2 separate regions of the Homo sapiens genome follow, and region 2 is linked to region 1. The links come from fine-mapping of genetic effects on gene expression. Tissue or cell type: whole blood. Region 1 holds a variant in brackets; the other region holds the start of a gene. All regions are shown on one strand. Distances are from middle to middle.

Evidence for each region. PIP is the estimated chance that this variant, and not a neighbour inherited with it, causes the effect.
Region 2: SNHG28 starts here. The variant in region 1 is the best candidate, but not a certain one, in a credible set for the expression of SNHG28 in whole blood (TOPMed, PIP 0.81).

Annotation. Positions count from the first base shown.
Region 1 is chr1:159,829,330-159,838,390 of GRCh38, forward strand. It overlaps SLAMF8 (SLAM family member 8), which reads left to right. Exons shown (of 5, transcript NM_020125.3): 2 at 537-863; 3 at 3,547-3,852; 4 at 3,933-4,040; 5 at 5,855-8,163. The coding sequence ends at 5,931. SNHG28 (small nucleolar RNA host gene 28) reads right to left here. Exons shown (of 5, transcript NR_147125.1): 4 at 8,588-8,698; 5 at 5,149-6,826. Among named protein-coding and RNA genes, the nearest start is that of SLAMF8, 7.0 kb to the left of the region's middle. The variant T/C (reference allele first, on the strand shown) is at 5,534.
Region 2 is chr1:159,849,741-159,859,941 of GRCh38, forward strand. SNHG28 (small nucleolar RNA host gene 28) reads right to left here and starts at 5,297. Exons shown (of 5, transcript NR_147125.1): 1 at 5,017-5,297. VSIG8 (V-set and immunoglobulin domain containing 8) reads right to left here. Exons shown (of 7, transcript NM_001013661.1): 2 at 8,994-9,172; 3 at 8,350-8,551; 4 at 8,005-8,226; 5 at 6,784-6,903; 6 at 6,143-6,341; 7 at 4,576-5,286. The coding sequence ends at 5,013. It overlaps LOC124900450 (small nucleolar RNA SNORD64), which reads right to left and starts at 2,232; the gene lies at 2,166-2,232. It overlaps LOC107985216 (a long non-coding RNA gene), which reads left to right and starts at 5,107. Exons shown (of 2, transcript XR_001738263.2): 1 at 5,107-5,228. RefSeq lists a silencer at 4,910-5,319.

The sequences.
Region 1 (9,061 bases):
GATCTGACTCCTACCAACTCTGCAGTGTAATTTCCTACTCCTCACACAGAGAACTACTCTCAGTTCCCCTGGGCACCAACTCTCCCCCTCCAGGCCTTTGTCAGTACTGTGCCCTCTGCCGGTGACACTTCCCTATCCTGCTCCAGGCCGCCCTCGGCTTGGCCTGGCTGATTCCCATTCCTCTTCAAGGCTCAGCTTAACAATTTGTTTTCTGAGCCCATCAAGGCTGGGTGAGATCCCCTGTCACCCTACCTGTGTTCTCCCAGGGCATCTCATTTTTCCCTTCATGGTATTTAACAGAATTCATTTTTATTGATTTCTTGAATGTCTGGCTTCCTCTGTAAGTTCCATGAATGCAGAGACTGGGGTTATCTTCCATATGTTTTATCCCTGGTACCTAGCACAGTGCAACCTCAACTTGAGTGGAGGGAATGTCAGTGGAGGGGCCCCAATTCACCCTATAGCAGCTCAGATGCATGCAAAGAAGGATGAGGAGTGTGGGGCAGGCAGAGTGACCAGGGGCTCTGTTCTTTCAGCCCTACTTCCCATTACAGTTACTGGTGCCCAAGTGCTGAGCAAAGTCGGGGGCTCGGTGCTGCTGGTGGCAGCGCGTCCCCCTGGCTTCCAAGTCCGTGAGGCTATCTGGCGATCTCTCTGGCCTTCAGAAGAGCTCCTGGCCACGTTTTTCCGAGGCTCCCTGGAGACTCTGTACCATTCCCGCTTCCTGGGCCGAGCCCAGCTACACAGCAACCTCAGCCTGGAGCTCGGGCCGCTGGAGTCTGGAGACAGCGGCAACTTCTCCGTGTTGATGGTGGACACAAGGGGCCAGCCCTGGACCCAGACCCTCCAGCTCAAGGTGTACGGTGAGTGTGTCTGACACTGGCTGCCTGGCCCTCTTCCCCCACAAAGCACCAGACGAGCATCCTGAGTCATAGCAGCCAGGGAGAGCTGGGTTCCAGAAAGCTCTGGTCTCTGACCATGTTGCCGACTCAGGGAACAGCTGCTCCCTGGCAGTCACGTCTAAGAAAATTCCTCCTGGCTGCAGCAGCCAGGCTTTGCCATTTCACAGTGCTTGCCTGAACTCTAGCTCAGTCTTTTCTTGGCTCAGTGGCCTTGGACACAATGCTTAGCCTCCCTGGCCTTCACCTTTCTCCTTTGTAAATGGGCATTGTAATATTACCATGTAGAGTACCCACAGGATGAAATGCAGTGGCATTTGCAGTGGCATCCAGGACAGAGCCTGGCCTGTGCTTCCTCAGTTCTAAAGGATCATCATAGACTATAAGATGTGCCACTAGTCTATGTAGTCTATGTAGTCTGTGTAGACTATGTGTCATTAGTCTAAAGGAAAAAAAATGATGTACCATACTAAACTATGACATAATGGGTTTATTTAAAAATCAAATTATAATGAAACTGTAATTAAAAGTATAGAATTTACACATTTCTTAAAAGGGCTTCTTAGAGAGATCTTAACTATATATGATTCATGGGTTCTCTCAGTCATTCATCATTGCAAAACAAACCATCCCAAAACTTACTGACTGAAAACAACAACGATGTTTACTTCTCATAATTCCGTGGGTTGGCAGGCCCAGCTGGGTGCGACTTCTGCTTCGCATGGGTCTGCAGAGCCATTCGCGCAGCTACATTCAGCACCTCGGTTGGCTGCATGGACTGGGGGCTGCGTGGGCCTTGTTTCCCAACAACTCCACCTCCACCTCCACCACAGCCACCTCCACCACCTTCATCATTTGTCTTCTGGTCAAGAAAGAGTGGCTTTCAGCTCTCATTTATCTACCTAATGGGCTAGAAAAGAGGCATGGGTGACCCTAAATCACTGTTTCAGTAAAACCTTAGAAATTTAGATAGAGTGGAAGAGAGGGGAGTCCAGATTTAAGAATGGAAAGCAGAGGTAGCAGCTGGGAAGAGGGTAGCCATGAGGGAGATAAAGATTGTAAGCAAATTGGGGAGATGTCTTGAATCCCCCCGAGACAGCTAACTGGCTGTCCTTGGGCGAGCCACTCAGGGTGCCGATGCAATTGCAAGGTGCCTTTCTGGATGCACGCAGCCCTGAGCCTCATCTTGGCAAGCAGAGTGCTGGCTGGATTTCAGCACCCCCCACCCCCTGCCACCTGTTACCCTGTGACCCCCCTTAGCCCAATGTCCTTGTGTAGTGAATAACCTACCCCACCATACAGGCAGCCCTGGAGCCCCTCCTCTGATCTGAGTCTCAGCTGCCGCACATGTGAAATGAGGACATTGAATGTGATAATACATGCAGCACCCACACCACTAAGCTCTAAAATGCCTTGTTCTCAGCAGCTGAATTACAGATTTTAAGGAAATTGCTGTTTTATTGCTTCCAAATACATAGCGTGATTAGAACTAATTGCACGAAGCTGCCAAGCAGCCGTCCTTAGGAGTTCTGCTTTGACAATAGATAAGAACGATTTGAATTAGCAGATCAGTTACTAGAAATGTCAATGGGTGTTTCTACTGTGCTTGATCGTGTTTGGAAGCAGCTTGTCCTCTTAAGTGATGTAAATATCCCCCCTGTAATCTTTGTTTATACTATTAGTGTGCCCAGCAAATCATTTCTCTTTCATATCACAAATCCCACCAGACTGAACTGGCATTAACGAGGTTTTTCTCTGCTTGACTTTGGAATGCTGTCAGAGACTGAGCCCTCCTGTTGTCACCAGAATGCTCTCCCACTGGCCTCATTTCCACTGAGACTCAGGATTTACTCATCAACCTGTATAGAAAGGGGAATCCATGGCTAGGACACCAGGATATCAGTTTGTTCAGTGACCAGATATCGAGCACCCACTATTTGCCAGCACTACAGAGCTAAGTTTACTAAGCTAACAAGACAGAGCCCCCACCTCTGGGCCCCTCCTTCACAGCATTTTGCACCCTCATAATTATTTAATTAATTATTCATAATCATTTTGTATTTGTCTTTCTCACCAAACTGTAAGCTCCAGAAGGCTAGGAATGTGTTTGTTTTCTTGCCTGACTTAATAAATGCTTGTCATCTCTTGTTGACTGACTGACATATTGTGAGAGAAATACTACAAAAAGAGATAGAGTGCTTGGAGAGCTCAGAGCCATGCCTGGGAAGGCTTCACAGTCAAGGCATTAAGCAATGTGTTCAAGCTGGGCCTTGAAGGATGGGTAGAAGTTTTCTAGGAGGACAAGAAGGGAAAGGCATCTGTGTGCGCAGATGAATTATGTGAAAGCATGAAAGATATTCAAGAGCATGACATGTTTGGGAAAACTGCAAATTAATTAGGATGAGCAGGGAGAAGCAGCAGGAGGTACAGCTGGAGAGATGGGCATGAATCGTTTCCTGAAAGGTTTTGAATATCAAGCTAAGGAATTCAGCTTCTGTCCTGTGGGCAGTGGAAAGCCAGACAAGATTTTGGAACAAGAGAGGCCTAGCCAGAGGTGGCATCTAACCCTGGGTAGATCCCAGAGCCAGAGATGTGGGCCCTGCCCAGCATCCCTGAGACCCATACCAGCTGTACTTTTCTTTCCCAGATGCAGTGCCCAGGCCCGTGGTACAAGTGTTCATTGCTGTAGAAAGGGATGCTCAGCCCTCCAAGACCTGCCAGGTTTTCTTGTCCTGTTGGGCCCCCAACATCAGCGAAATAACCTATAGCTGGCGACGGGAGACAACCATGGACTTTGGTATGGAACCACACAGCCTCTTCACAGACGGACAGGTGCTGAGCATTTCCCTGGGACCAGGAGACAGAGATGTGGCCTATTCCTGCATTGTCTCCAACCCTGTCAGCTGGGACTTGGCCACAGTCACGCCCTGGGATAGCTGTCATCATGAGGCAGGTATGCTAAGGGCCAGCAGTCAGTGGTTGAGGGCTTATGAAGCATCAAGTCCACCTCTAACCCCACCCCTCCATGTTCAGCACCAGGGAAGGCCTCCTACAAAGATGTGCTGCTGGTGGTGGTGCCTGTCTCGCTGCTCCTGATGCTGGTTACTCTCTTCTCTGCCTGGCACTGGTGCCCCTGCTCAGGTAGGAGTCCTGCAGGTGCAGGAGGTAGGTGGAGGAAGTGGAGTTCCTGGGGAGGAGGGGGTCTTGGACCTCCTCCTATTTAGGCTTCAGATGGTCTGCCCCTTCCTACCTCTCCCACCTCATCTCTTGGCCTTCTCTAGCTCATATCTTGGTTTACAACCAGACTCAACTACTTGAAGTCTCTTATGTGGTTCTCCAAATGAACTGTTCTCTCACATCCATCTGCAGACCTTTGTACATTGTATTCCCTCTGCCTGGAACACACTTTCCATGATTTCCCACCCAGCCTCCCCCCTTCATGTGGCTATCTCATACTCAGTCTTCAAGGTGTGCTTGCTCCAGAAAGCCTTCCCTGATTGCCCCAATACTCAGGCTGATTAACATCCTTTCTTCAATCTCCATTGCTTACCCCAATCAGAGAACTACTTACATTTACTTCCCCACTGAATTCTGAGCCCTTAAAAGGAGGATGCTGGGTCAACACTGGGCATGTCAGTGGTTCCCAGAACACAACTCTTCCTGAAACATAGCTGGTATCGACAAACATTGTTGAGTGGGAGTCTAAATGACTCCGAACCCCTTCTTGCCTGAGATTTCTACAAAATGGCTCCCTAAGATAAGCTACTCCCTGGCCAGTGGCTGATAGGGTTGCCTTCTTGAGAAGAGGAAGGAAGGGGAAACTCCAAGATCAGACCTGGTTCTAAGCTCTACATACAGCTCAGTCCCTTCCTCTGCCGCAGGATGCCCTGCCCCTGAAAGAACTACCCGACTGACCAGGGCTCCGTGGTCATTTCCATGCCAGGCTGTCGGAGCTGGCTTGTCCCAAGGTGGAGAAAGGGAGTCAGCAAGGAGGAGTCACTGAGCCCTCACTATGGTGGGTGTGTCCCAGAAGGCAGGGTCTGGGTCCAGCCTCTAAGCATGGGGACAGGCAATGCTGATTCCTGTTCATTCTCTCCAGCAGAGAGAAGGGCAAGAGGGAACAGCTGAGCCTGCACTCCACCTGAAGGCCCCATCTGCTGTGGGAGGGTATTGCCCTGGCCCCTGGCCCCTGGCCCCTGCCCCAAGAGTCCCCAGGATTTGTGATAAGAAAGTGGAAGCCAGGAAAACAGCAGGGAAAAAATACCTTTATTGAGATATAATTCACATAGCATACAATTCACCTATTTAAAGTATACAATTCGATGCCTTTTAGTGTATTCGCAGAGTTGGGCATCCACCTTCACAACCAATTTTAAAACATTTCTATTACCTCCCCCAAAACCCCATAACCCCTTAGCCATCACCTCCCAAATCCCCCATTCCTCCCACAGCACTAGTCTGCTTTCTGCCTCTATGCTTTTGTCTTTCCTGGACATTTCATATAAATAGAACTATACACTATGTGGCCCTTTGGCCAGGCTTTTTTCACTTAGTGTCATGTCCTCAAGGCTCATAAAATAGCATCTTTGGCCACTGAGAAGGGACCCAACAACCTGGGATAGTAGAAAGCTCCA[T/C]GCAGGGAGTCCAGAAGCTGGTTCTGGCTCTGCCTCATGGCTTCTGTCCAGTGATTTAACTGGGTCCACCACAGTCCTAACTTTCCATACCTTCTACAATTAAATGTATGGCATAGTTGCAGGCCAAGGTTAGATACTAGGAAGAATTTCCTATTCTTGAAGAGCCTCCCTTTCCAGGGTGTTGGAAGACCAGGAGAAATGTTCCTTTACCTAAGGTGACCTTGGGCTAACACACTGAGGATTCAGAGGCCTGCAGGCAGGCCAAGGATTCCAAGACTCCAAACACTGGAGGGGTAACTTTCTTTCTGATGTCCTTACCAGGGAAAAAGAAAAAGGATGTCCATGCTGACAGAGTGGGTCCAGAGACAGAGAACCCCCTTGTGCAGGATCTGCCATAAAGGACAATATGAACTGATGCCTGGACTATCAGTAACCCCACTGCACAGGCACACGATGCTCTGGGACATAACTGGTGCCTGGAAATCACCATGGTCCTCATATCTCCCATGGGAATCCTGTCCTGCCTCGAAGGAGCAGCCTGGGCAGCCATCACACCACGAGGACAGGAAGCACCAGCACGTTTCACACCTCCCCCTTCCCTCTCCCATCTTCTCATATCCTGGCTCTTCTCTGGGCAAGATGAGCCAAGCAGAACATTCCATCCAGGACACTGGAAGTTCTCCAGGATCCAGATCCATGGGGACATTAATAGTCCAAGGCATTCCCTCCCCCACCACTATTCATAAAGTATTAACCAACTGGCACCAAGGAATTGCCTCCAGCCTGAGTCCTAGGCTCTAAAAGATATTACATATTTGAACTAATAGAGGAACTCTGAGTCACCCATGCCAGCATCAGCTTCAGCCCCAGACCCTGCAGTTTGAGATCTGATGCTTCCTGAGGGCCAAGGCATTGCTGTAAGAAAAGGTCTAGAAATAGGTGAAAGTGAGAGGTGGGGGACAGGGGTTTCTCTTTCTGGCCTAAGGACTTTCAGGTAATCAGAGTTCATGGGCCCTCAAAGGTAAATTGCAGTTGTAGACACCGAGGATGGTTGACAACCCATGGTTGAGATGGGCACCGTTTTGCAGGAAACACCATATTAATAGACATCCTCACCATCTCCATCCGCTCTCACGCCTCCTGCAGGATCTGGGAGTGAGGGTGGAGAGTCTTTCCTCACGCTCCAGCACAGTGGCCAGGAAAAGAAATACTGAATTTGCCCCAGCCAACAGGACGTTCTTGCACAACTTCAAGAAAAGCAGCTCAGCTCAGGATGAGTCTTCCTGCCTGAAACTGAGAGAGTGAAGAACCATAAAACGCTATGCAGAAGGAACATTATGGAGAGAAAGGGTACTGAGGCACTCTAGAATCTGCCACATTCATTTTCAAATGCAAATGCAGAAGACTTACCTTAGTTCAAGGGGAGGGGACAAAGACCCCACAGCCCAACAGCAGGACTGTAGAGGTCACTCTGACTCCATCAAACTTTTTATTGTGGCCATCTTAGGAAAATACATTCTGCCCCTGAATGATTCTGTCTAGAAAAGCTCTGGAGTATTGATCACTACTGGAAAAACACTTAAGGAGCTAAACTTACCTTCGGGGATTATTAGCTGATAAGGTTCACAGTTTCTCTCACCCAGGTGTAACTGGATTTTTTCTGGGGCCTCAATCCAGTCTTGATAACAGCGAGGAAAGAGGTATTGAAGAAACAGGGGTGGGTTTGAAGTACTATTTTCCCAGGGTGGCTTCAATCTCCCCACCTAGGATGTCAGCCCTGTCCAAGGACCTTCCCTCTTCTCCCCAGTTCCTGGGCAATCACTTCACCTTGGACAAAGGATCAGCACAGCTGGCCTCCAGATCCACATCACCACTCTTCCACTCGATTGTTCCCAGATCCTCCCTGCCTGGCCTGCTCAGAGGTTCCCTGTTGGTAACCTGGCTTTATCAAATTCTCATCCCTTTCCCACACCCACTTCTCTCCTATCACCTTCCCCCAAGATTACCTGAACAGGGTCCATGGCCACTCAACCTGTCAGCTTGCACCATCCCCACCTGCCACCTACAGTCAGGCCACATGCCTGGTCACTGAATCATGCAAAACTGGCCTCAGTCCCTAAAAATGATGTGGAAAGGAAAGCCCAGGATCTGACAATGAGCCCTGGTGGATTTGTGGGGAAAAAATACACAGCACTCCCCACCTTTCTTTCGTTCATCTCCAGGGCCCCACCTCAGATCAAAGCAGCTCTGGATGAGATGGGACCTGCAGCTCTCCCTCCACAAGGTGACTCTTAGCAACCTCATTTCGACAGTGGTTTGTAGCGTGGTGCACCAGGGCCTTGTTGAACAGATCCACACTGCTCTAATAAAGTTCCCATCCTTAATGACTCACTTGTCAACTAGTGGACTAATTAACCCTCCACCAAAAAAACACAAAGTGCTTCTGTGAGACCAATTTTGTGCTAATGAGCATTGAGACTGATGCTTTGTAAGTCACACCACAACAAATATTGATTGAGGGCGCTGCATGTGCTGGGTACATTTCTTGGCACTTGGGAATCAGTAGTCAAGCGAAACCCTTGCCTTTGAGAGTTTATGGTCTGGATAATATAAATAAACAAGTAAGCATATGTCAGATGTTGTTAGTTTCTGTTAAAGACAAGGCAGAGTAAAGGGCTAGAGAACAATCTGTTGGGGAGACAGGGTCTGTCTTAGATAAAGCAATCAGATGACACCCTCAATGGGGTGACATTTGAACAGAGGCCCAGTGAAGTGGAGGAGTGAGCATGCAGTGACAGAGTGTTCCAGACAAAGAGACCAGAAAATGCAACGGCCCTAAAATGGCAGCATGGTTGGTGTTTGCAAAGAAGAGAGTGGAGGCCAGAGGGGCTGGATCCAAACAAGGGAGAGAGAGGGGAAGGACAAGAGTACAGAGAGATGGCCTGGGGCCACATCATATGGGACTTCGTCGGAATGCCCCTTTGTTGGAGTTACAATGACAGAAAGAACCCCTCGAGAGTCCAGATATCAGACTCCTCCCAGAACACCCTCTACCTCATTGCTCCAGGATGCTTGTGGTCAGGTGAGAGCCCTCTCCAGATCTTCTTTTGCTTTTCCTCGTTTTCACTTTATTTTCCTTGAGCAATAGTTTTTGCATCTGTTCTCCTGTACAAAAGACAAATACAAGAGCTGCTAGGGCAAAGGGCTCATGAAACATGATATCAGAGAGAATAGGAAAGGGGAATAGCATAAGAAAAGGGTTAGAGAGGACATTTTTCTCATCAATGGAGACATGAACATTCAGTGCCTCATTTTTAAAAAAACTGCTGCATGAGCTGAGATTGTGCCACTGCACTTCAGCCCGGGCAACAGAGTGAGACTCCGTCTCAATTAAAAAAAAAAAAAAAAACTGCTGCAAACATTAATGACACCTGTAGCAAATCTTTCTTCCATGTGTATTAAGAACTAGCACCTGTTCAGTTAATCACTCTTGGTTACTTACTGATCTTCAGAGGAAGCATCATCTCC
Region 2 (10,201 bases), 21 kb after region 1:
TACAGTTCACTATTACCTAAGCTCTTAAAGTTATTTACTTCCTCCATTGTATCTGTATCATGGAAATACTATACAATCATGTGCTACTAAACATTTCTCCCAATTCCATGCCAGTCACATCATGTTGGTAGCTTGAATTCAGCCATAGTGGAAGCATTGACATCATGGAAATCAGCAAAGGCTACAAATCAGGGCTTCCCAGTCCCTACCCCACCCTACACCCTACTCCCAAAGCCACTGTTGAACATATGTCACCACAAGTGCTCTCCTCCAGCACTGAACAAGGTTTCATGCAGGAGAAATGAACAAAAAACACCAAGGCATCCCTGAAGCAAAATTGTTCAAACAGAAACTTCCTTCCCTCGTTCTCCTGGGGTGGTAAGTACAGTGACGACTGTGATCTCAGCATTGGATTTAGGAAATCTCTACCTTCCCTGTTGACTCACCCTAACAGGAAGCTGTTCTCAGAGTCTCTATAAAATCTCTCTTGCTGCTCTTTAGTGAGCCTTTCTTGCCAGAGCCTCACTGGTCCCACCCCCCAAATAGAGGCCAAGTCTGATCATGGCTCCCTTGTTCCTGGAATAGGGAAGATTATATCATTCAACAACCTGCACAGCCAACTGGCTGCCTCTGTCCCTCAGCACCTTTCAGGAAGCTAAGCTGGAGGCTCCTCAGACAGGGAGCACCCTCCCCAAGTCATCCTATACCATCCCCTGCCTTAGGGGATATTTTGCCTTAGGGCAAAAATATGCCAGGCACAGTGCCCTGCTGAAGATCTCTTCATCTATGACAAGTCGTCTTATAGGTGCTCATAAATATGACCAAATAAATGAAGGGATGGATGGTTCCTGGAGTTCTCTGCTCTTCTCCTTATTTAACGTCCTTTCCCTATACCTCTTCCCATTCCCAAGAACTCCCCACCTTCCCACCCCCAAGACAGTGGTCTCTGGTTCCTTTTGCCTCATTACTATCTCTCATGTCTCTCAGCACGCTCTATAAAAGCAGAGCTGGCAATGCCATCACCCCTTTGCAAATACCCAAGTCATCTTGAGGGTTTCCTAGTTATGTGTTACTAAGAAGTGTTTAGGGGCTTCCTAAAGACACTTTGAGGCCCATGCACACCCCACACCTCCTGTGGCCCTAGAATAGGAGCAGGAAAAATGAGGAAGACTAGCTTCTCCTCAAGAGAAAAGAGACAAAGAGAGAAGAAAGAGGCTGGGCTCTCAACAAGCAAGCAGCTGGGGAAAGGAAAGTAGAACGAAGTGACCTTGAAGTACTGTGCTCTTCTGAACACCTCCTACCAACTAGACCAGACAAGTGTCCAGTTGTGTCCCTGTTGCAGCCATCCTGTATGGAGTGCAACCACTTTGTCCACTAGAGGCAGCTGAATTAGAAATACAATGCTCTGGGGTCCCTAAGAGTAGAACTTGGATCAAGGGATAAAAGCTATATGGGGACAAAAACCGGGTTCAGAGAAATGTTCTGTTGAATATTGACAGTCAGAGGCCAAGTGGCCTGCCTCGGAAGGTAGTGAGCTGCCATTGGAGGTTGTCAAGAAGACGTTACATACCCTTTGTCAGGAATGCTATAGAAGGAATTCAAATGCCAGAGAAACAGCCTGCTGTCCTGGAATCAAACATGCCTAGATCAAATCCTGAATTATCTTTATTATCTTTGTTGCCTTGGTCAAGATACCTAATCCCTCTGAGCCTCAGTTTATTCATCTGTATAATGGGGATAATACACAACCTCATAGGACTAAAGTAAGGAATAAATAAGACAAAAAATCAAAAAGCACCTAACACTTAATAGGTGCTCAATAAATGCCAATCCCCTTCCCACCAAAAGGGGGAGCTGGGTTAGTTGGCCTTGAAGGTCTTTCTACACCAGAGAGTATGACTCTAAAACACTTCCTGGCTATTAAGAAAGAAGGCATACATCTGAAAGAGATAAAAGAAGTCAAGATTAGGTCAATGAGGGGAAGAGAAAGAAGGATGCTAAGAATGGTCAGGGATCATTTAGAGGTCATCCATGACAGAGCCGTGTTTCCTCTCAACTGACCTTCTAGAATAAAATGGAAAAGTAAGATTGGGGATTTAAAGTCCAGCCTGAGGGGCCTCAGTTTCCCTATCTGTATAGTGAAGGAGTAGGATTTTTTTTAGGTCAGACTTCAGAGTAATCATATTGAACTTTACTTCATAATGCTCAGTAAACACAGCTCATTATAAATCCAGCCAAGGCCTTTCCCAGCAACTCATGCAGCTATATAAAATCACTAATACCTGCAGAGTGCACATCCCTTCCCAAGGACAGGGGGCCTGGGAGAATGAGATGACTAGTTTTATGTGACAATGGATGTGAAACAGCAACAGTATTGACCGACACCGAATTAAGGGGAAAATATGAAGGAAAAAAATCAAAGACAGACAGACAGACAGACAGACACACATACACACACACACACACACACACACACACGCAGCAACCTGCCAAAAGAATAATATTGAGATCCTGGTTTTGATAGAACTAAATATAACATCTTATATTTCCACAAGCAAATTGCCCAACAAATTGAAATGGAAATATTCTAATGTTACTACAGACAGATATAATGTCAACAACTTGCTATTCTCCTCAATAATTCATTATAAACCAATTTAAAGACCTACAGTACATTGAAAACAACCACCAAAATATTCCAGAGTTAAGTGTAAACAAATAATATGAAAGAATCAAGAAGGATGACCAAATAAAATCAAGGCAGGCCAAACAAATGAAACACAAAGTCCAAAAGGATTCTGAGGAAGGTCTAAGCTAAGTTCTAACATCCCTGAAACAAGGGACCAAAGTGGTAAGGTAACACCATCCAAGTTGTAGCATGGAAATGATAGAACCCACACTACTTTTCCTGATACTTGTCTCCTAGCAGACATGAAACTGCTGATTTCAGGAACTTACCCTTTCAAATATATTTTTGCTACCAAAGCACAAATAATCTAACATAAAATGAACTCTTTAAATACAAATAAATTACATATAAAATAAGAAACAGCCCAGACAATTCAGATGTACAAGCACCTACCCTCTGCATCACTATACTGTCCTCATCAGCTCATCAAATACAAAATCATTCACATTCATCAAATACCCAGTTGAACTATGAGGTTCCTTCTTAAATCTTGGGCATTTAGGATGGACCTAACTGTTTTTTTTTAAGTTTAATCTTTCTCAGCACAGGAAATTAATCCAGCCAAGCTTCTCCTATTAATCATTTCTATTCCATATTAGAAATTCTTAAATTATAGGCAAGTGGGCATTGCATTAGCAAAGTAGATTCCAATGCCCAACAGAGATGATGTTGAACAAAGAAGGATTAGTAGAGCTTGTCTACTTGTCTGCATCCCCCTCCTTGCTGTGTGACCACCTGGTCCCTTTATCAACAAAGGAACATCTATAACACTGCCCACTTTACTTACTGTTTGCTTAGCAAATATATCCTTGGAACTTTATCTCAAACATTACTCTTCAATTAAGCACTCCCCATCTCACTAAACAAGAGAGGACGTCTTGCGCCTATTAACAAAAACAGTGCTTATTGATTTCCACTTTTGAACCAAAAATGACTAAAACATCCCCCAAAATACATTGTAAATATCATGACAAGGTGTTTAACAAAACAAGTGCTGGTAAATACTAAATAGCTCAATTAATCCCTATCTAGGAGTGGCTGACTACTTCAGGGTGTAAGAACGTGGAGCTGGATCTCAGAAAGGCCTAGATTCTCACCACAGAATATTCCATCATAAGGCAGTAACTGTAAAATATCTAAAAACTTTTTTTTTCTAGCATAAAGTAATGCTGCCACACTCATTCACTTGGTATTTCTCAAACATCTCCTGCAGAATGGGCTCTGCACAAGTTGACCAACTGCAGACAAATGAAAAAAAAAAAAGAACCACAAAAATAATTGTTCTAAAACACCAGCAGCATCTAGGTGAAGGGATTTACCATACTCTCCGAGTTCCATAATATATGCTATATAAATATTATTCCCCCTCCTTCCTGCACTTCACCCAGCACCCTAGAACTGTGGCACTTAGTTTTTTAATATAAGAGGTTGTAGTCTTATTTTCACATGTCCTTGTTTCTGTCTCACCGGATGCCTGTGCCTTCTGTGCTCCAAGGACTGGTTTCCTTTTAGCTTTCAGCAACATACAAAGACTCCCTAGACCTTCAGAGCACATTATTCTCAATAGAAAATCTTGACATGTGAAAACTTTGAATATTTAGAAATGGCAAGTGTATTGCACTTTGTCGGTTCCTCAGTTTATTTTACGGTCGTAGATATTCTGAGCTAATTCTTTTTGTCTTTGTTTTCCTTTTATCTGCACTTTGTATGTTGTTCAGAGGAGTTGCCCTGGATGGCCCCTTCCAGCTCTGACTGCCAGGGATCTAAGCAGGAGGGAGGAGAGGGGGCGTGGTCGAGGCGAGCGACAGAAGCAACCCTCCCCGGCCCTGGGCAGGGTTCGCCACCCCGTGCCCAACCTCCGTGGAACGCGGACAGCCACTTCGGACTCACGTCTCAATGTTTCTTTATTGTGCTAACACTGCTGCCTCAGAGCTCAGACCTCACACACAGAACAATTCGTCCAGACAGACCCCCACCCACCCGGCCCCCGGGGCCCTCTGCTTAGGCTGGGGACACCAGGCCTCCGGCCTCAGCCGCTCTAGGACACTCAGCCTCCTCCTCCCTCCCTCTCCCCCAAGCCTTCGGTCCCGGGGGTGCGGAGAAGGCTCAGGATCGCCTTCCTCCGCCCTCGCCCGCCCCTTCCCACTTTTGGGGAGGAGGCTCTGCCTCCCTACGCATTTCCTTAGGGAAATGCCTTCACCCCCAGCCGCCTGGCAGCCTGGGGCGAGCGAGGTCGTCCCCAGCCCCGACGTGTCCCCAGCTGCAGACAGAGAGCCCCGCGCCCTCCTCCTGGCTGGGGCGCAGCCCGGCCCGGCGCGCGCGCTCACACCAAGAGGCCGTTCTTGCACTGCACCGGCCCCTCGGCGCAGTCAGCCGGCTCCGCGCTCTTGACCTTGACGTAGACCGGGGAGGGGCCCGCTTCGCAGGCGGCGGCGGCGGTGCAGGGCGCCAGGGCCACGTCCTCGGGGCCGCCGCAGGGGGGAGGCGCGTACTTGCGGCGCAGGGAGCGGCTGACGTTCTGCGTCGGGTACCCCAGGAGGTGGGTGACGCGGCTGCCGCGCCCGCTGGCCTTGCACCCGGGCGCCACGGCGTCCTCTCTGTGGAAAACAACAGGCGGGCGGGTGAGCGGGCTGCTCCGCAGCGGGGCGTGGGCACGGCCTGGGCAGAGCCGGGGGCTCTTGGCAACCTCTTGTCTCCCGCGCCTCCCTCCACCTGCCCTCGTCTCTCTCCCTCGGCCTCGACCTACTGTCCTTTGTGACCCTTCCTGGGTCGGCGACCCTGCAGCGGTCCCGGAGCCAGCATCCCCATCCTCCAGACAGGGCTTGTCCACGCGTATCTGGAGAGCCCTGCAGGCAGCCCCCTCCAGGCCCCTGCAATCCCTTTCTGATGTTTCGCAGGCCCAGAAGAAGGTGCTTTTCCTCTTCTTCTTTCCTTAGCTAATCCTGACCTTGCTCGAGCAATCTCTCTCTTTCTCACCTCCTGCCCCTCAGTCTTCTCCATCTTTCCCTCCATCCCCGAGGCATTGCAATCATTAGCACTACTAGACTTGTTCTATTTTTATTTCTAGTTTGCTTCTAATATAAGTTATTAGCACTATTCTTATTATTAGCTCTTCTTAAATAATAATGTCAGAGTTCTTACCGGCGCAGTACAGGGGAAACGTGAAAAAACATAGGCCCTGCCCTCCAGGAGCTTACAGTCTAGACAAGACAGACAGGTGCGTAGGCAGGAGGGAAATGGAAGGCAGGGAGCAGAGGTGAAGACTGGGGTGGCAGGGGGAGGGGAAAGCCATGAGTTGGGTGGCAGGTCGACATGCCGCAGTCCCAGCACTCCGTGGCGATGGCGGGCAGGGTTGGGGTGGGGGGCCCAGCCGGCCGGTGGCAGGCAGGAGTGAGGTGGGCAGGGCGCCGGTTCCCTGCCGCACAGCAGCATGCAGCATGCATCAGGTTTTACCTGATCTCACTAGCCAAGTCGCCGCAGGCCCCTCCGCCGACCCCGCCGCCGTTGCCGTAGCCGAAGGCACCGCGGGCGCCGCCAGCCCCGGAGCCCCCGCAGCAGCAGCAGACGAGCCCCCAGATGCCTACGGCCAGGCAGCCCAGCGCGAGCAGAGAGCCCAGGACGATGCCGATGATCACGCCTATACGCCGGGAGTCTGTGGAGAGAAGTGGAGGCAGGTCAGGCTTTCTCACAGCCTGGCAGGTGCCTGAGGGAACAGCACCAGGAGGTGCCAGGTCAGGGGTTAATGGGAAAGAGGGAGAGGGACCCAGGGGGTCTCTTAGCCCTGGAACACCCAGTGGGGAAGATATGGGGAGATGCAAGTTAACCCCTCGTGTCAGCATGCTTCTCCCAGGGCTTCCAGCTGCTCTGGGCTCTAGAGCTCAGAGTGGAAGCTGTGCTGGGCGAGCTTGACCCAGCTCAATAGGGTCAAGATCGTACCCACTGATCTTGGCCCACTTGTAGGAAAGGGGCTGGGAGCCCCCACTGGCAAATGGATGGCAGTGGAAAGGCAGAAGCAGCTGAGGCTCCAAACCAGAGCCCAGCCTCCTCCAGTTCAACCCTCCCAACCACCCAGCCCTCAAGACTGCTGCACCTACCTGAGACCTTCACCTCCACCACACAAACACTGTAGCCCACGTTGTTGGCCACTGTGCACTGATACAGCCCATCATCTGCTCTGGAGATATCCTTCAACACCAGGTCCCCATTGTTCAGGCCTGAAAGTGAAGTGGAGAGAGGCCTGGTCTCTGAGAGCTCCCACCCCAACCTCAGTCCCTGTGGGGTGGGGGATGGGACACCCACTCTAGAAGAAGGGAAGGCTTATGCATGTGTGTACACCCACACCCACACACACACACACACACTCCACTCTCCAGGTGAGTCACCTTCCCCCTGCTGTGAAAGAGATGCAAGAAAGGACCTCTCTCCCAGCAGCAAGACAGGGACACCATTAATTCACTCTGACCTTAGGGAAATATGTACGCTCTCTGAGCCTTGGTCTCCTCCTTTGTACAGTGAGGACAGGAGAAGCCAGGGGAAGAGGAACTCTAAGGTCCCTCCTAGCTCTATTATTCTTTGTTTGACTGAATATTTTCAGCTTCTCTATGTACTAGGAGCTTTACACACCTCCCCCATTTAATCCTTGCATGCCCATGAAAGGTATATGTTAGTATTCCCTTTCCATATATGAAGAAATTAAGGCACAGGGAGGGTAAGCCACTTGCCTTAAACTTGGAGCCAGTCAGTGTCCCAGCCAGGATTCAAGCCCAGCTCTGTCTGAGACCAGGCTCCCTCCAAATTCGCCATAGTACTTTTGACTGACTCTCCACATTTGCCTTATCATCTGCTCTCAATAGCAGCTGCTGGGCCAGGCACGGTGGCTCACGCCTGTAATCCTAGCGCTTTGGGAGGCCAAGGCGGGCGGATCGCCTGAGGTCAGGAGTTTGAGACCAGCCTGGCTAACATGGTAAAACCCCGTTTCTACTAAAAATACAAAAAATTAGCCAGGTGCGGTGGTGCATGCCTGTAATCCCAGCTACTCGGGAGGCAGAGGCAGGAGAATCGCTTGAACCCGGGAGGCAGAGGTTGCAGTGAGCCGAGATCATGCCATTGCCCTCCAGCTTGGGCAACAAGAGCGAAACTCTGTCTCAAAAAAAAAAAAAAAAATAGCAGCTGCTGGGGCAGGCCCAGAGGGAGGGTCTCCCACAGGGATTCCAGGTTTGATTTGATGGCACTGATAACCCAAGGAAACCCCAACAGGTCCCAGAGTCCCTGATCTTCCACTCACCCCCGACTGCCCTCATCCAGGGCCCTCTCACCTTGGTTTATGGAGCTGTGGAAGGACTCCTGGTAGGACAGCTCTGAGTGGTAGCTGTGCTGGGAGGTGTAAGACCCAGCTCGATAGGGGTAATGGTGCCCACTGATCTTGGCCCACTTGTAGGAGAGGGGCTGGGAGCCCCCACTGGCATAGCACTTCAGCACCACATCGTTGCCATATGTCATGTGGCCCTCTGTCCAGCACATGGGCACTGCAGGTCGTGCTGCAAGGAGGCAGACAATTGTAAGCCAGGGCCCAGCCAAGAGACAGAGCCAGGCTCAAAGTGGCCAAGCTGCCCTTGGCTCTTAAGCCAGGGGGAGAGGAGCTTAGAGGAGTCTGGCCATACCTTGGACAGTGACAATGACCTTCCGGGTGGCCATGGTGGTCTTCTTCACCCGGCACTCATAAGTGGCTGTATCAGATACCTGCAGGTTCATGAGGTTGATGGAGGCATCGTACTGGCTTGGGTCTGAGGCTGCAAAGCGGACCCTCTGCTGCAGATGGGGAAGGCTGCCATGGTTGATCCTCTTGTCCTGGTAACTAAGGAACTGTGAAGAGGAGAGGAAAACAGGTGGTGAAACAGGCAGAGCCAAGAAGGGCCATGTGGATTGGCTGCTTTGGGCAATTCACTGAACTTCTCTGAGACTCTTTTCTCAGCTGAAAAAATGAGAATAATGATGCCTGAGCCACTGACCTCTTACAGAACTGGTGAGATCAGGTGAGATCAAGCACTTGGAAAGATATATGGTCAGACTGGGAACTTTTTGAAGGCAAAGACTACAACTTATCTTCCTTTTAGAATGGGATGGGAGGAGGTAGACTGACTGGCTAGCTTAATTCACAATTGCAGAGCTCTCATCCCCATTGCCTCATTCCCTGAAAGGCCTTGGGGGAGGTTCAAGGTCAGTCTTCTCCCTTTGGGATGTTGGCTGTCCAACAGGTAGACATCATGAAGCCTAGAGGAAGGAGACCCCTGTGCCCAGCACTCACCACGTTCTCTCGGTGGTGGGCGGGGTCTGAGTTGACCTGCATCCACTCGATGTCCAGCCCATTGGGACCATAGTCCTCAGGGTCCAGGACGTAGGGGCAGCCCAGCCTCACATTATCACCTTCTGCCAGGTACAGGACCTCCTGTCCATCCCCGTTGATCCGCACAGCAGACAGCAGTGCTAGGGGGAGGGCAGAGAAGATGGGGTGGTAGGAGCAGAAGCAGGGCTTCAGGAGGAGTCAGTGTCAGCCCTTCCCTTCATATTCTCTGTCCACGGCACCCAGAGGTCAGCAGTGCTTTCATAAAAAGGAGGGCTGCTCGTAGTGGGTGTGTATGTGTGTGTGCATGAATTGTCACAGGCATATAACAGCTATACATATAGCTGTTATATATGTAGCTGTTATGTATGCTTGTATGTATATATGATTATGTGTATGCATGTATGAATATGTACACGTATGTACATTGTATGCTTATGAGTATTTGTGGCTGCTTATGTGTACTGTGAGGATATTCATGTACATGACCACGTAGCGTGTCTGCTTATATATTTATATGATAGTGTGGATGTGTTTGTGTGTGTGAAGGCATGTGGTACACACAGAGTTGTTAAATGCTCTGATAGAAGAGCCTGGCTGATTAAATGTCACCTATGTGGGCTCTGTCTGGGCTGAGTGAAGTCCTCCTGTCCAGAGGCAGCGGGGTGGTTACAATGGCTTCTGGGACTCCTCTCCAGCCTGAGAAGCCAAAGACTAAGTGTGTCTATGTGTGTCTGTGTATGACAGTGTGAGTCTGTGGCTGTATGCCTCTGTGTGGTTTTGTATAGTGATGTGTGACCATGTGAGCTATGTAAGTGCTTAAAAGTGACAGTGTGTGCTTGTGCATGACAGTGGACAGCTGTGACCAGGAGCCTGGCTGTGTTCGTGTGTGATAGTGAGTGATGGTGTGTGCCTGGGACTATGGCCACAGGTATCTGTAGGACATTGTGAGTCTTTCTTGACTACACAGCATTGCGTACTGTGTGTGCTTCCTCTTATGTGATTGTGTGGCTCGCATGCAGCTGCCCCCACAAGCTGGCTTCCAGTGAGGCCCCTCCTGCCACTGAGTCAGTGGCAGGCAATCCTGGGTGAGGAGCCAGGATCCCAGGACCCAGGAGCTCAGGACTGAGCTCTTGTCCCTCCCTACCCTGAAGCCCCAGGCAGGCCTATCC